Linked DNA regions of Homo sapiens: region 1 is linked to region 2. A link means that fine-mapping ties the variant in region 2 to the expression of a gene that starts in the linked region. Tissue or cell type: whole blood. Region 2 holds a variant in brackets; the other region holds the start of a gene. All regions are shown on one strand. Distances are from middle to middle.

What was found. PIP is the estimated chance that this variant, and not a neighbour inherited with it, causes the effect.
Region 1: SEC23B starts here. The variant in region 2 is fine-mapped to the expression of SEC23B in whole blood (TOPMed, PIP 0.99).

Annotation. Positions count from the first base shown.
Region 1 is chr20:18,503,386-18,511,490 of GRCh38, reverse strand. It overlaps SEC23B (SEC23 homolog B, COPII component), which reads right to left and starts at 3,551. Exons shown (of 20, transcript NM_006363.6): 1 at 3,519-3,551; 2 at 435-669. The coding sequence starts at 655. It also overlaps the pseudogene RPS19P1. RefSeq lists enhancers at 3,281-3,330, 3,681-4,010.
Region 2 is chr20:18,563,182-18,571,286 of GRCh38, reverse strand. SMIM26 (small integral membrane protein 26) reads right to left here and starts at 3,855. Exons shown (of 2, transcript NM_001348957.2): 1 at 3,691-3,855; 2 at 1,727-2,051. The coding sequence starts at 3,808. The coding sequence ends at 1,882. RefSeq lists a silencer at 3,722-4,004 and an enhancer at 4,068-4,167. The variant AG/G (reference allele first, on the strand shown) is at 3,610.

The DNA.
Region 1 (8,105 bases), 60 kb after region 2:
TGTTAACAGTTAAAATTTCTTCTGCCTGCTACTTCTCCTTGCCATATAGCATCACTGTACCCGGGAAGCATGAGAAGACGGTCTAAGCTTTCGAATTCTTCTGGGAAATTACTTTAAGAGGAATCAATAAAGTCTACAGTTAAGCCAAAAGCAAACTGATTATCAGCCAAAAAAAAAGTGAATTACAAATCCTCTCCCTCTACCTCTACCTCATTCCTGTAAGATTCCAATTTTATCTGGAATTATCAGGCCAGGGAGATTTCTACAAATATTCACCACTTACTACTCACCACAAGAATCGTTTAGGAGTCTCATCATCTACTACTTATCACAAATTTGATGACCTGCCCAAATTTAATGACTTTTATGAGCATCACATAAAATTCATAATATATTGTATTTATCATTTTTACCAGTTTCAAAAGAATCCATACCAAAGTGGGTTGAGAACAGCTTTACAAGTTGGCCTGCTGCAAAGCACAGGTTCATATTGTACAGGAGGTAGGTCTGGACGTTCTTTCAAAGGAGTAAGGAGACAAGCCAGGGGTACAACCATTCTTGTAGCCTCCAGCCGGCTGGAAGGCCACACGTTCCAACTAAAACGCACACCATCCCGTTCTTCATTCTGCTGGATGAACTCCAGGTATGTCGCCATAGTCTAAAAGGGAACTGAAGATAAAACTTTAATTACCTTAATGGTATGTGAAATTCTGAACTAAATGTCAAAAAAAGAAGATGGGTCATGTAACACAGTGTTTCTCTTTTTTTCCCATCTCAGCTCACTGCAGCCTCCACCTCCCGGGTTCAAGCGATTCTCCTGCCACAGCCTCCCAAGTAGCTGGGATTACAAGCCTGTGCCACCAAGCCCGGCTAATTTTTTGTATTTTTAGTAGAGGCAGGGTTTCACCATGTTGGCCAGGCTGGTCTCAAACTCCTGACCTCAGGTGATCCACCCGCCTTGGCCTTCCAAAGTGCTGGGATTACAGGCGTGACCCACTGTACCCGGCCCAACTAACACAGTGTTTCTTAAATACTTGGGAAGAACCTGTTGCTGTAGAATGACAGTATTTCTTTTCCATCTGATACCCAAAAGTCAGTTAACCGCACAGTTATCATTGATCACTGCTCCTTTCTCACCTCTCCTTTCAAGCACTTAAAAATAAATCAAAGGAGTGGGAGGTTTACAATCACCTGATCATCTCCAAACTACATGTAGTTAAACACTACTACTTCAAACCTCCTCACAGATCACACGTCCTATCAGTCAAGCCAATTTCAGCCCCTTGCTCAAGGGTAAGTCTTGAACCCTGTTTCGGCATCCAACTATCTTCCTCTCTAATCTCCTTCCTTTCTTCCTCTATTAAATTTTACATTCCAAGTGATTTTTTTTTCAGTAGCGGGGGGGTGCTCATTCCCTTCCGCACTTTGTTAACTTTGGAGAAAAGAGCTGGATACTGATCTTCAAGTTTGGTTCATAATGGGAACCAGTTTTGAGCTAAATTATTTCTACTTGGTATTACCAAAATTACTATTATGCTGAGTCTCACCAGAACCTCTTTCCTCACCACGGTTGCTTATGTTCATGCCTTGACAGGCTGTGGTCAAGGCCAGGTGTGGTGGCTCACACCTATACTCGCAGCACTTTGGGAGGCTGAGATGGGCGGATCACGAGGTCAGGAGTTCAAGACCAGCCTGGCCAACACAGTGAAACTCCGTCTCTACTAAAAATACAAAAATTAGCCAGGTGTGGTGGCACGTGCCCATAGTCCCAGCTACTCAGGAGGTTGAGGCAGGAGAATCGTCTGAACTCGGGAGGCAGAGATTGCAGTGAGGCGAGACAATGCCATTGCACAGCCTGGGCGACAGAGCCAGACTCTGTTTCAAAAAAAAAATGAAGACTGTGGTCAGTAAAACTGTCCTACAGGCTAAACTCTCAAACCCAGATGATCCCAACTTCATTGAGTATTTATACATCCTGTTCATATCCTAAAATCTAGGGTAACACACAACTCAGCTATTGGGGTTCAAGGGAACAAGCCCCTCAAGAAAAGTAGTAAAAAGGCAAATTAAAGAGTCTATCAAATTAAAGTGGCCTCTCGCGCCCACTTCCTGAATATGGATAACAACTGTCTGTTATTTTGGGAAGTACCATACTGTAAATAATTTTGATTAAGGCAATAATATTGCATGGCTAGAAAAGCAAATGAATTACTCTACTACATAAAGCCCAGAACACAAGAATTCCAATGTTTGCTCCAACTGAAACTCTAAGAAATCTGTTTATTTCTGGCAACGGCAAGAACCTGAAGCACTGTGTGCACAGGAAGCACTCTGGAGCTTCATGGGAAGCAAAGGGATAACTAAAGTCGGAATGAAAGCAAGTTCTATCACAACTCTCAGCAAGTATGTCAGCAGATTTCATTAAATAACCGTCTCTCTCTCAAAACGTTCTTTATTAAAAGGCACTGGCGGCCGGGCGCGGTGGCTCACGCCTGTAATCCCAGCACTTTGGGCGACCGAGGCCGGTGGATGACCTGAGGTCAGGAATTCAAGACCAGCCTGGCCAACATGGCAAAACCCCGTCTCTACTAAAAATACAAAAATTAGCTGGGCGTGGTGGCAGGTGCCTGTAATCCCAGCTACTCGGGAGGCTGCGGCAGGGAGGACTGCTTGACCTTGGGAGGCATTGGTTGCAGTGAGCCGAGATCACGCCACTGCACTCCAGCCTGGGCGACAGAGCGAGACTCCATCTCAAAAAAAAAAAAAAAAAAAAAGAAGCTACTGCCTCCATCTAATGGTTTCCAAGCATGTACAGCCTAAGACCTGCTCCCTCCTTTTCCTACTGCCTGTTTCCCTCACCCTTCTAGGGTCTGGATTCTTAGCAGTGGACACATAATCCAAGGGGACTATAGAAGGTCCACTAATCATCTGAAGTTATGCGCATGAGGGAATATGCCGTTTTTCTAGGGAGATGGGTCCATAGCTTTTACCAAAGTATCGGGGAAGGTATCTGAAGAGGTAAATAACTGAAAGTATGAATTAGTGAATGAATGAAAGGCCTGGAAAGATAACAGGAGAATATGCCAAAAAATCTGAACCACCCTTATCGCGCCAACTCGTAACTTCTCAGGACACAGTGACCATGTGTATGTAAGAATAAGTGAGGTTTAATCCTTGAAGGGAGTCCAAGGACCTGGGTTCCAGTTCCAGCTGTCATGAAGCAAAAGTCGTTTCACTTGTCTGAGTCTTGAGTTTCTCAACTATAAAACGGGACTTGGGTCCTTCCAGGTGTGCGCACTCCGCAATTCTGGGGAAACTGGAGCCAGAAATCGGTCCCGGCCTGGTGCGGGACGACATCCGCAGGGGACTCCCGGATCATCCATTCCCCCGCTACCCTAAACTGTCAAGAAAAGGCCTCCTCCCAGAAGCCGCTCACCTCGCCCCCGGCAGAAACTCATACCCGTGCCCTCGGCCCTCCGTCACCTATGCGCCCCGCTCACCTGGCCGGAGCCGCTCACCTAGCTAGAGCCGTCCTCACCCACAGCTGCAACAAGCAGGCTCCGGCTCCCACCGCCAAGTCCAGCTCAGCTCTCAACCGATTGGCCAGCGCCCCAGCGCGTCATGCCACGGCGCTGTCCACTGGCCAATCAAAGAGCGCTTCTCCGACGGACTGGAGGAAGCGAGAGACTCAGAGAAGCTCTGCCACCATCTTGGAACAGGGCAAGACAGGTGTATGTCGCACTTCAAAACGAGAGTTCCTCGGAACACGTTTCCCCACCCCTAAACGTTTCTGTTTCAGAAAACCCCGGCGCCTGCCGCACCGTTGCCTAAGCGCAGCCAGCGCTCCTCAGAGGTTCGCCCTGATACAATATGACATCCGCTCGTCTCAGTGGGAAGTCCCGCTGATCGCCTTAGCTACCGGAAAGCGAGAACGATGACGTATGCTCGCGGAACAGGGAGCTGCACTGGTTGGAAGAAACTAAGGCTGCCGGAAGAAGGCATTAGCATGCGGAAGGGGCGGGGCGGGTGGTGAGCGCGGCGGCGCTTACGCACTTGCTGGTTTGGGAGTCGGTCTCTGTGGTTAAGTTTGAAGTACAGAGGTGTGGTGGTGCTTCACGTTACAAGCTCTCCTACCGTCGCTTGCTGTAATGTCTTGGCGCTCTCAGCGGAGGCTGGCACTAGCGCACAGTCCCTGTCATCCTTCTACATGGAGATAAATAATTGAGAACTGTAATATTCAACCATTTTAGGAGAGTAAGCTTAGAAATACATGGAACATAACTTTCTTTTAAAAAATAATTCCAACGTTTAGATTTAGGGGGTACACTGCGTATTTGTTACCTGGCTATGAGGTTTCGAATTCGAATGAGCTGGTCACCCAGATACTGAGCATAGTACCCAAGTTTTTCAGCCCCTCCCTGCCTCCCTCCCCACTCTAGTAGTCCCCAGCGTCTATTAATGTCACCTTTGTGTCCATGTGTGCCCAATGCTTAGCTCCCACTTTCAAGTGAGAACATGTATTTGGTTTTCTGCTTCTGCGTTAATTCTTTTAGGATCATGGCCTCCAGATGCATCCATGTTGCTGCAAAAGGCGCGATAGAACACAACTGTATAAAGCCACCACAACCATTTTTACACACGCTGACAAGTGGCAAACATGAACACATCATTACTGTGACTCAGAGTTGTAGTCTCTGTAGCATATAAAAATAAGCAAAACGATGTAAACATAAAATTATGCAAGAACATATCTAGGCATCCAAGAAGTATCCATTAATTAGCTCAATTTAATACTAAGTTTTAAGTTATCTACAGATCATAGAAATTATTAATAGTTTAAGGCACAAAGAAACAATTACTGTTAAATGTGAGAATGATTCAGTTTTGTTGAACAAATTCACATTTTTCAGGATCTTAAACAATGTAATGTTAATATTAGCTTATCAATAGTAAACTTTTATAAATTTAGGAAGTTCAGATTAATTATTCTCGGTAAGGAAACAAACTCAAAATGTACACATGTATAATACTTAACACTGAGAAAAGACATAGCTGGGATTTTTTTTAACCAAAACTTAATATTATTCGCCAAAGATTTGCCTTGATTATTTGAACCTGGATTCTTTCTGTACTAGCAATTTCTGTAAGAAAGATTGTTATAGGACCATCAGGTTCGATTGTCCATTGTGCGGTAACAGAAAGAATAGGAGTTGCAGCAGATAAAGAGTTCCATAATCAAGTGGCAGCCAAATGAGGAGACAAGAGCAATCCTCAAATCCACCTCCCCAAGAGATTAGAGATGGCATTTTTAAGAAGTCTGGAGGGGCAATGGGCTAAAGTGTGGGGATTTCTGATTGGTCAGGAAGTGAGAGGTGAAGTCATGGGACAGGGAGATGAAGAAACTTCATTCCAGTGTTGTTTCTTGGTGGAGGTCTTTATTTATTTATTTAAAAAAATTTTTTTTTTGTAAAGCAGGGTCTCACTTTGTTGCCCAGGCTAGTCTCAAACTCCGGGCTTCAGGCGATCCTCTCACCTTGGCCTCCCAAAGTGCTAAGATTACAGGCGTGAGCCACTGTGCCCTTCCTGGTGGGGATCCCTAGACAGTTTGGCATCAGCTGTTTTGTGGGAATTCAGGATCTGAAAAATACCTTAAGCAATTCCTGGGTACAAAGAGCTAGTGTCAGAGATTCTGTGGATAGGAGCAATCAGGGAGTAGGTGATCAGTGTGCTGCAAGGCTTTTGGTTAGTTAGCAGCTGCAGGGAAGTGAATTGAAGGGCACCAATGCACCCTGGTCAGTGCCTAACTAACCTGCCTAAAGGCTGGCTTGTAATCTTGTTAACCCTGTCAGGATGGTTTCAGCATTTTTAAGAAATTTTGCATGCATAAGTTTAATTTACTTATTTTCTGGAATTTTAGAAATAATTGATTTACATGTGTTTGTTTCCATAAGTGAATTATAACAGAGCTCCTTTAAGACATGAAATAATATAACTTATTAAAACTTTACAAAGGTAGTAAGATTTTTTTACTCCCACAACAAGAGGGGAAGGCCTTTGTTGATTACAGCCGGGAAGACACATAGACACATAGCATATAGCTTTGGTTCTGCAACTTTGGCCACAGGTCGAAAGTAAATTCAGAAACATAAAAATTCAGTGGACTAGATAACAAAAAGCTGTTCTCCTTCCCAATGGGCATGGAAGTCTTAACTGATTTGAACTCATAAGTAGACAAAAAGGCAAACAAACAAAAAGACTAACAAACCAGATTTTTCATCATCTCTTATCCAAAAGAGAATAGATCTCTAAAAACTATTAATTCACTTAAAGAGATCACCAAATGTTCAGAATGTAAAACCTAGTTCCTAATTTTTTTTTTTTTTTCTGAATGAGGCAATGTATTAACCCAGCATGGTTTGTTCCAATGCTTCTTGTTGGCAGCTGCCACCTGTCCGGCAATTCTGCCCAGATCTCTCTGTCCCTGAGGTGTCAGTTTGCGGCCCCCATCTTGGTCCTTTTCCACCATTTTCAGCCCCTCCAGGGCTTGGAGGACCCGGCGGAGGACACTCTTGAAGCCTCGGCCGAAGTGGCTGGGCATGACGCCGTTTCTCTGACGTCCCCATAGATCTTGGTCATGGAGCCAACCCCAGCGCCACCCTGGAGGTACAGGTGCCGCGCTGTGGAACCGGCTCGTGTGTAGAACCAGTTCTCAACGTAGGGAGGAAGCTCTTTGTGCTTGGCCAGCTTGACGGTGTCCACCCATTCGGGGACTTTCAGCTTCCCGGACTTTTTGAGAAAGGCTGCCAGAGCTCTGACGAAGTCCCGCTGGTTCACGTGGTTTACAGGAACTCCAGGCATCGTGCGGCTTCCGCGCTGCCAGCCAGGGGAAAGGGAGCAACGGGGTTTCCCGCGAGTTCCTAATTGGTGTCGCCATTCATGGGGAAAAATCCGCCAGCTGTGGGCGAATCAGAAACAAAACCCAAAATCAGTAAGGAGGAGAAAGAAACCTAGGGAGAAAGTCAGCAACGCTGTAGTACTATTGCTACTTGGTATTCACTCCCGGAGCCAGGAAAAAATGTGCTTGGGCTTAGCCCCATGGGGTGTTCTTCAGTAATGTGGTTTACCTGGTTCTGTCAGGTGAATCCATTGGGATGTTGGTGAAAGCTTCAAAACTGTTAAAGTGTTTCAAAAGGTAAAATTATGGCCTTCATGCAAATATAAAATGAACATGTGCCAAAGATCTTACTTAACTCATTCATTGATTTTAATTAATCCCTACGACCAGGAGGGATGTTCAGACTGGTTCTAAGGAGAATTTGATTTATAGTGACATATTCTCTATCACACAAAATTGATTTGCATTGCTGTGGACAGGAATAGTTTTCATTGTTGTGGGCAGGGAACATTTGCATTACTATCTTCTATAAGTTAATTTCTATCTCTACAGAGTTGTAAAATAGCATACTCAAAGGCAGAGGTACATCCCTCCTACGGCAAATGACCCAGGGGATTTTTTGTTTTTGAAACGAAGTCTCGCTCTGTCGCCAGGCTGGAGTGCAGTGGCGCGATCTCAGTTCACTGCAACCTCCACATCCCGGCTTCAAGCGATTCTCCTGCCTCAGCCTCCCGAGTAGCTGGGACTATAGGTGCACACGACCATGCCTAGCTAATTTTTGTAATTTTAGTAGAGACAGGGTTTCACCATGTTGCCCAGAATGGTCTCGATCTCTTGACCTCATGATCTGCCCGCCTCGGCCTCCCAAAGTGCTGGGATTACAGGCATGAGCCACCACTCCCGGCCCCCAGAGAGTCTTTTAAAAATGCACAGCACTCCACAGAAAGTTCACCCAGTAACCTCTTTTGACTATTTCAAAATCTTTCATAATTTTTCTGACATATTATCATCATCTGTAGCCTGAGTCTAAATTCTTTTATTTATTTTATTTTATTATTATTATTTTGAGATGGAGTCTCTCTCTGTTGCCCAAGCTGGAGTGCAGTGGCACGATCTTGGCTCACTGCAACCTCTGCCCCTGGGTTCAAGCGATTCTCCTGCCTCAGTCTCGTGAGTGGCTGGGATTACAGGCGCAGGCCACCACACCTGG
Region 2 (8,105 bases):
TGGCACGAATCCATGCTTGACCTGATATCCCTTGGGAAGCTGAGTCTCTGCTACCAGCATCTGGAGCTGTTACTTGTGATTTTGGAATCCTTGTCACTAAGGCTGACTGCACCACAGCACTGCTCAGGCCACCCATAATGGTGGAACTGACACCAATGAGAAATCAAGATGAGGGTCTGAAGGTCATAGTACTGTAGAGGAACCCTGAAATGCCCAATTCCTGTCCTACCACACATCACATCTCTACTCACAGGGTCCCAACAGCTATGAACAGGAAAACACTACCTAAATGAGAAACAAATGCCACTTTATTCATAACTGAGGCAGTACTCTATAATCCATAGGCAGGGATCTGATAAAAACTGAACTGAGTCTCTCGCAAGGGTGGAAGCCAAAGACCAGGTTGAGGAGAGGCTGGTCAGACTTTGGCACTGCACATGGGAGGTAGTATCTTCTTGGGATATTTGTATTACTCCAGAAAGGTGAGAAAAGCAGCTGGTGTGCAATAAGAAAAGCAAGGCCAAGAGCCCAGGCAGGCTCAACAAGTGGCTGCCTGCATTCTGGTCCCAGTGTCAGGCCTTCTGAAGACAACATACTGCTTTTTTTTTTTTTTTTTGAGATGGAATCTCGCTGTCAACAGGCTGGAGTGCAGTGGTGCGATCTCAGCTCACTGCAACCTCCGCCTCCCAGATTCAAGCGATTCTCCTGCCTCAGCCTCCCAAGTAGCTGGGACTACAGGTGCGCGGTGCCATGCCCAGCTAATTTTTGTATTTTTAATAGAGACAGGGTTTCACCATGCTGGCCAAGACGGTCTCGATCTCTTGACCTTGTGATCCGCCCCTCGGCCTCCCAAAGTGCAGGGAGTACAGGCGTGAGCCACCGCTCCTGGCCCATACTCTCTGCTTTAATTCTGAGCTACCAATACACGTTTTTTATAAACACCCACTTTTGATTTAAGCTCACTTGTGTTTGTTGCCTGCAACCAAGAGACCACTGAGGAAACTGGTTCAGCATCAATCATGTCGTCCTGACTGCATTCCCAGCATTAGAATAGCACTGGCCACAGTTGGTGGGTAATCCACACTTGCTGAAGGAATGAGGGGTATGTGCACTGGTCCTAAAGAATAGGTCCAGTCTGTTTAATTCAGAAGTTACAATCAAATTTATATCATACTTACCCAGTACGCAGTAGTACCCAAAGGGCTACTGTGAATCCCAAAGTGAATATGGAGATTTGCTGAAACTAACCTTAAAGCGACCACTAAAGCTGTGCCTAATAGCAACATGAAAGAAATATAAATCTACATTAACTAGTTTCAGGAAATCAAGCTTATGGAAGCTCTATGTGAAATTTCACAGCAATCTTTCACTCATGCAAATACAGAGGAACACCTCTTGAAAATGCAGATAGTAGGCCGGGGACCGTGGCTCACACCTGTAATCCCAGCACTTTGGGAGGCTGAGGCAGGCGGATCACAAGGTCAGGAGATGGAGACCATCCTGGCTAACACGGTGAAACCCTGTCTCCACTGAAAACACAAAAAATTAGCCAGACATGGTGGCAGGCGCCTTTAGTCCCAGCTACTCGGGAGGCTGAGGCAGGAGAATGGCATGAACCTGGGAGGCGGAGCTTGCAGTGAGCCGAGATCGAGCCACTGCACTCCAGCCTGGGTGACACAGCAAGACTCCGTCTCAAAAAAAAAAAAAAAAAAGAAAACGCAGATAGTTTCCTTCAAGAAAATATTTATTGCATATTATTAGTGATTATGTTTTACAGCAAATTTAAATACATACACTTTTCACAAACCCAAAATGGGAATCAGGGCAACTATCAAATTTAAATGTTGAACCAAGTCCTGGTTTTCAGAATTCAGCAGCCAGTCATGGTTCTGTACCAGGGCCACCAGTCCATGATTTCCAATAGTTGAGGATCTTTTCTGTATTTGGAACAAAATCTTCTTTATATGTGACAACTGTTTCCACATAAAATCCTTTTGGGCGTTCAGAGAGTTCACTGGGTACTTCACTTGCTGAGCCATCCTTTTGGTCTACTTTATCACCATTAAGAGAAAAAAAAAAAAAGAACACCTGAATTATTAACTTAGAAAGCAGTCATTAAAGTCTTAGAAATTAACTAAGGTAAGAATTACATCCACTCTCTCCAACCCCAATAATGAAGGAAGGAATGAAAAGGAAGGGAAAAGAAAAGCTGGGTGCGGTGGCTCACGCCTGTAATCCCAATCTCACTTTGTGGGGGCCGAGGCAGGTGGACCACCTGAGGTCAGGTGTTTGAGACCAGCCTCGCCAACGTAGTGAAACCCCATCTCTACTAAAAATACAAAAATTAGCTGGGCGTGGTGGCATGGGCCTATAACCCCAGCTACTGGGGAGGATGAGGCAGGAGGACTGCTTGAGTTGGGAGATGGAGGTTACAGTGAGCCAAGATAGCGCCAGTGCACTCCAGCCTGGGCGACAGAGCTAGACTCTGTCTCAAAAAAAAAATAAAACAATTCGCCGGGCAGCAGTGGCCTGCGCCTGCAATCCCAGCTACTCGGGAGGCTGAGGCAGGAGAATCACTTGAGCCCGGAGACGCAGGTTGTGGTGAGCCGAGATCATGCCACTGCACTCAAGCCTGGGCGACAGGGTGAGACCTTGTCAAAAAGAAAAAAAAAAAGAACGAAAGAAAGAAAACATAAATATGGACATTAAAATATTTTTACTTTATATATAAATGTAAAGTATTTTTACCATATATTACATATAAAGTAAATATAAAATATTATATATAAAAATTTCTTTTTCTTTTGGTAGAGATGGGGGTCTCCCCATGTTGCCCAGGCTGGTCCCGAACCCCTGGGCTCAAGCAATCTCCCACCTCGGCCTCCCAAAGTTATGGGATTACAGGCGTGAGCCACTGCACCCGGCCAAAATGTTTTTAAATGCTTAATGCTGGACACATGTACTTTCAGGCCACTGACAGCTTCATCACCAAATGTAATCTTCAGCATAGTTTTTACACAACAACTTTACTGAGATATAATTAACATATACGATTAACCCACTTAAAATATACAATTTAATGTTTTTAGTATATTCAGATTTGTGCAACCAGCACCACAATCAATTTAAAAATACTTTCATCCACAAAAGGAATCCATACCTTTGGCAGTCATTCCCCAACTCCCCAACCCCTCAGCCCCTAGCAACCACACTAATCAACTTAATGTCTCTACAGATTTCCAGCATATTTTTCAAAGCTGAGAGACTTTTCTCCCTTTGCGCTTAGTAACTGGAAGATTTTAATACGCCTTGGCTGCTAAAAGTACTGAAATTGCTCGCCATATACGATGAGGGACAGTAGTACTGAAGCATCACTCTTTAAAAATCACCGGCCAGAGTCTCTGAAAGTCCACCTTGCACTTTACACAGATTCCTCCAATTCTGAATATGGGGACGGCCCTATCCAGTAAATGATTCAGATTTAGGAAACAATATTTACAAGGTATTAATAATTCCTGGAGTCTAGTTCTTTGCAGATTCCATTATAACAAACGGCTGTTAGCACCCGTTTCAATTAGTTTTGCAGAATAAACCTGGGATTTAAAGGAC[AG/G]GGAAGTTGTTTCCATGACCCCCGGGGAACTCTCATCGAAGGCCGTGTGTTCCGGGGCAGGCCCCGCCGAAGAGCCCTACCTGACGACTTCGCCATTGTCCGGCTATAGTAAAGCAGTGAGCCCAACACAGACCAGGTGCCGATCCCGTAGACCACCGACATCCGCCGGTACCAGGCCGTGAACTCATTTCGATACATGGGTACGCCAGCGAGTGCCTCGATTCTCGCAGGCCCACGGCAGAGGCGGGACTTCCGGTGAGGGCGTCGCTGCGGTCCCTGCCGCCGGAACCATTAAGGAGCCGCCAGTTTTCAGCGTCCGCTTCCGGCTCTGCCCCGATGCACCTTGGGGCCTCTGGCCCGGAAAGTCGCTCAGGTGTCCGGACTTTCGGGTGTAGAACTGTGGGCGTGCGATACTTTTTACCACGTGACGAGGACTAAATGACAACTTAGAGGAGAAGCTTCTCACTTGCAAAATTGTAATGCCTTCGTGGGCTCCAGACGGTATCCGAAAAGGTTACTTCCAATTCCTCTTCCAGTTTTCAGATTTGCAGGGATACCGCTTGTCTCTCCCCGCAACTCTTCTTTTCCTCCATTTTTCTTTCCGGAACTCTGGGTGAACTTTAAATACTTCCAGGCCAAAGCTAATCCCTCCACTAGGCTCTGGGTACTATTTTTTCCAGCCTCAGTGGCCTTTCCCCTCATTGACACCCTAAGTCCTCCCCCATCTTCATTATTGACGTTTATCCTTCATACAAACGTGCCCATGTCTCAAAAACAAAAAATCTCCTTCGACTCCGACCACCTCCAGCTTTTGTCTTATGCATACATTTTTTAAAGCAAGATGCCCTCAATAGACTGAACAACTTAAGAGCAAGTGTGATGTGCTTGGCACAAGGTAGGCCCGGTAAATTAACGTTAAGTACTTTTCAGCCACACTCAAACTTGGTTTCGAAAGCATTTGCCACCACTGACCCCACCTGCACCTTTCATGGCTTCAGAAACATCATTTTCCCTGGTATCCTTCAGGGTTCTTTTCACCTTGCCCACCCTTTAAAAACTGATGTTCTGCCCTACAGAAATAGATAAAAAACTTAACTCTGAATGGATCGCTGACTTAAATGTAAAAGCTAAAACTATTTAATATAAGCCTAGAAAAAAACCAGGAGAATATGTTTGCCATCTTGGAATAAGCACAGAATTCTTAGAATAAAAAAGGCATCCCAAGCGGGGTGGCTCATGCCTGTAACCCCAGCACTTTGGGAGGTAGAGCAGGGAGGATTGCTTGAACCCAAGAGTTCCAGACCAGCAAGGCCAACATAGTGAGACCCCATCTCATTTTATATATATATGCATAAAGCGAAAATGGATAAATAGGGCTTTTAAAAAAAAATTAAAATTTTTGCTCTTTGAAGGTCACAGTTGAGAAAATGAAAAGCCAAGCCACAGAATAAAATATTCATAATAACATATATCTAACAAAAGGACTTGGATCCAGAATATATGAGGACGCTTTACAACTCAGTTATAAAAATACAGCCCAACTAAAAACCAGGCAATAAATTTGAATAGAACGAAAGAAGATATACAAATGACCAATAAGCACAGTAGCATCATTAGTCATCACAGAAATGGACATTAAAAGAATACAATAAGAGACCATTACACACCTACTAGAATGGCTAAAATCAGATTGAGAATGCCAAGAGCTGTAAGGATTTGGAATAATTGGAACTGTTATTGATGGGAACATAAAATGTTACAATCTCTTTGCAAAACTTAGTTTTTAAAAAGTTGAACATATGCCTACCATATAACCCAGGCATTCCGTTTCTAGTTATCCATGAGAAATGAAAACCTGTGTCTGCACACAGCCATGTACATGAATGTTCATAGTTTTATTCTTAATAGGAAAAAATAGAAACCACCCCCAATACCCATCGAGTAAATGGCTAAACAAAACGTGGGATACCACTTACAAATAAAAAGGAACTACTGGCTGGGTACGGGTGGCTCACACCTGTAATCCCAGCACTTTGGGAGGCCAAGATGGGTGGGTCACCTCAAGTCAGGAGATCGAGACCAGCCTGGCCAACATGGTGAAACCTCGTCTCCACTAAAAATACAAAAATTAGCCGGGCATGGTGGCGGGCGCCTGTAATCCCAGCTATTCCAGAGGCTGAGACAGGAGAATTACTTGAATCCAGGAGGCGGAGGTTGTGGTGAGCCGAGATTACACCACTGCACTCCAGCCTGGGTGACAGAGTGAGACTCCTTCTCAAAAAAAAAAAAAAAAAAAAAAAAAAAGAACTACTGATAAATACAACCATACGATGAATCTCAAAATGGATTATGCTAAGTGAAAAAGCAAGCTAGACACCAAAGAAACCAGTCACGAAATTCTAGAAGCAAACTCCAGTGGGAGAAAGCTGATGAGTAGTTGTCTGCAGTAAGGGCATGGAGAGAGGGAAGGGCTAAAAGGGTCTGAGGAGACTTTGAGAGGTGATGGTAATGTTCTGTATGTTGATTATTGTGGTGGTTTCTGTCAAGATTTATCCAATTGTATGCTTTAAATGGGTGCAGTTTATTATATGTGAACTATAGCTCAATAGTTATAGACAAAACAGAAAAATTGGTATTGTTTCAAGCTTGCGTCTCTTCTCATCCTTCTCATCAGCCTTACTCATGATACCTATGTTATATGTTAATAACTCTCAAATCTACTCCAGATTCTCTGAAAGCAAATTCATGTTACTGCCAACCTGCTATGCATCCTCGGCTGCATATTCCACAAGCTCCTGAAACTAAAAAAATGTTCCGAATTGAATTTATCAATGCCACTCCCAACAGGAAACAAACCTTCCCTTTCTCTTCCCTGATTCAGAGAGTGATTGAGAAATTGCCCAAGCCAGGAACTTGGAATCATCTCACCTGACATCCTCTGTCACCTCTGTCTAAATACCCTGTCTCTGTTTAGGCCTCATTTCTCACTTGGATTACAGTCTCCTCTCATCCTTCCCCCTCTGGAGTGTCTTTCAAACCTTAAATTATCATTTCACCCTCTGCCTAAGATAAGTCAGAGGCTTGCCCTACCTTCAAGATGGAGTTCAATACCCACAAAAATTAACAATTAATAAAAAGATGGAGTTCAGAGTCCTCACTGGGCATACTGGGCTCAGTGGCCCCTTCTCATGATAGCTGTTTTCCACACAGCACTATCACCCTGCCACCCCCTACATTCTGTGGAAAAACGTCACTGGTACCCTAAGGTGGGACCTGCATGGCCATGTCATACCATGCAGTTCCCTCAGCTCCTTAACTCACTGACACTAGAGAGAACCGCAGAGTTAGCTGGGTCTATCACACAGTCTTTTTTCTGTTAATTTGAAACAGAAAAGCCAAAGAGGATGTTTTGGCCTTAATCTGTACAGACAACTTTATGTATTCTTCTATATGATGTGTTAAAAATTATATCCAAAACTAAAAATATTCTTGGAAAACGCACAGAAAAATGTAAATGTTCAACTTTTTTTTTTTTTTTTTTTTTTGAGATGAAGTCTCCCTCTGTCACCCAGGCTGGAGTATAGTGGCGTGACCTCAGCTCACTGCAACCTCCACCTCCGAGGTTCAAGTGATTCTCCTGCCTCAGCTTCCCAAGTAGCTGGGATTACAGGTGCCCACCACCACTCCTGGCTAATTTTTTAATATTTTTAGTAGAGATGGGGTTTCACCATGTTGGCCAGGCTGGTTTTGAACTCCTGACCTCAAGTGATCTGCCCACCTCAGCCTCCCAAAGTGCTAGGATTACAGGTGTGAGCCACCGCACCTGGCCAATGTTCAACATTTTAAGATAGGAAACTCTGCTAGAATTCTGCTAGAATGTAGGGCAGAGACAAAAAGAAATACAATAACTTGTATTCGAATACAAATTCAAAACAGAGTATTGCAATCAATCCAGCTGTTCCAACATCCAATTAATAGGAGCTTCCAGCTTCATTTTCCTACATAGCACTCATTACCTTCTAATGTATCATTTACTTCATTTCTTTTTTGTTTTTTATTTTTTTGAGACGGAGTCTCGTTCTGTTGCCCAGGCTGGAGTGCAGTGGCACAATCTCACTGCAACCTCCATCTCCTGGGTTCAAACAATTTGTCCCTGCCTCAGCCTCCCAAGTAGCTGGGATTACAGGTGTGCACCACCATGCCTGGCTAATTTTTGTATTTTTAATAGAGAAAGGGTTTCGCCATGTTGGCCAGGCTGGTCTCAAACTCCTGACCTCAGGTGATCCGCCCACTTCGGCCTCCCAAAGTGCTGGGATTACAGGCATGAGCCACCACGCCCGGCCATATCATTTACTTCTAACATTGTTATTGTTGGTCTTCCCTAACTAACACATAAGCTCTATGAAAACAGGAATTTTTGTTTTATTGGCAGTATTCCCAATGCCTAGAAGACTACTCCATAGACAACAAGTACCGGATAGTTATTTGTTGAACG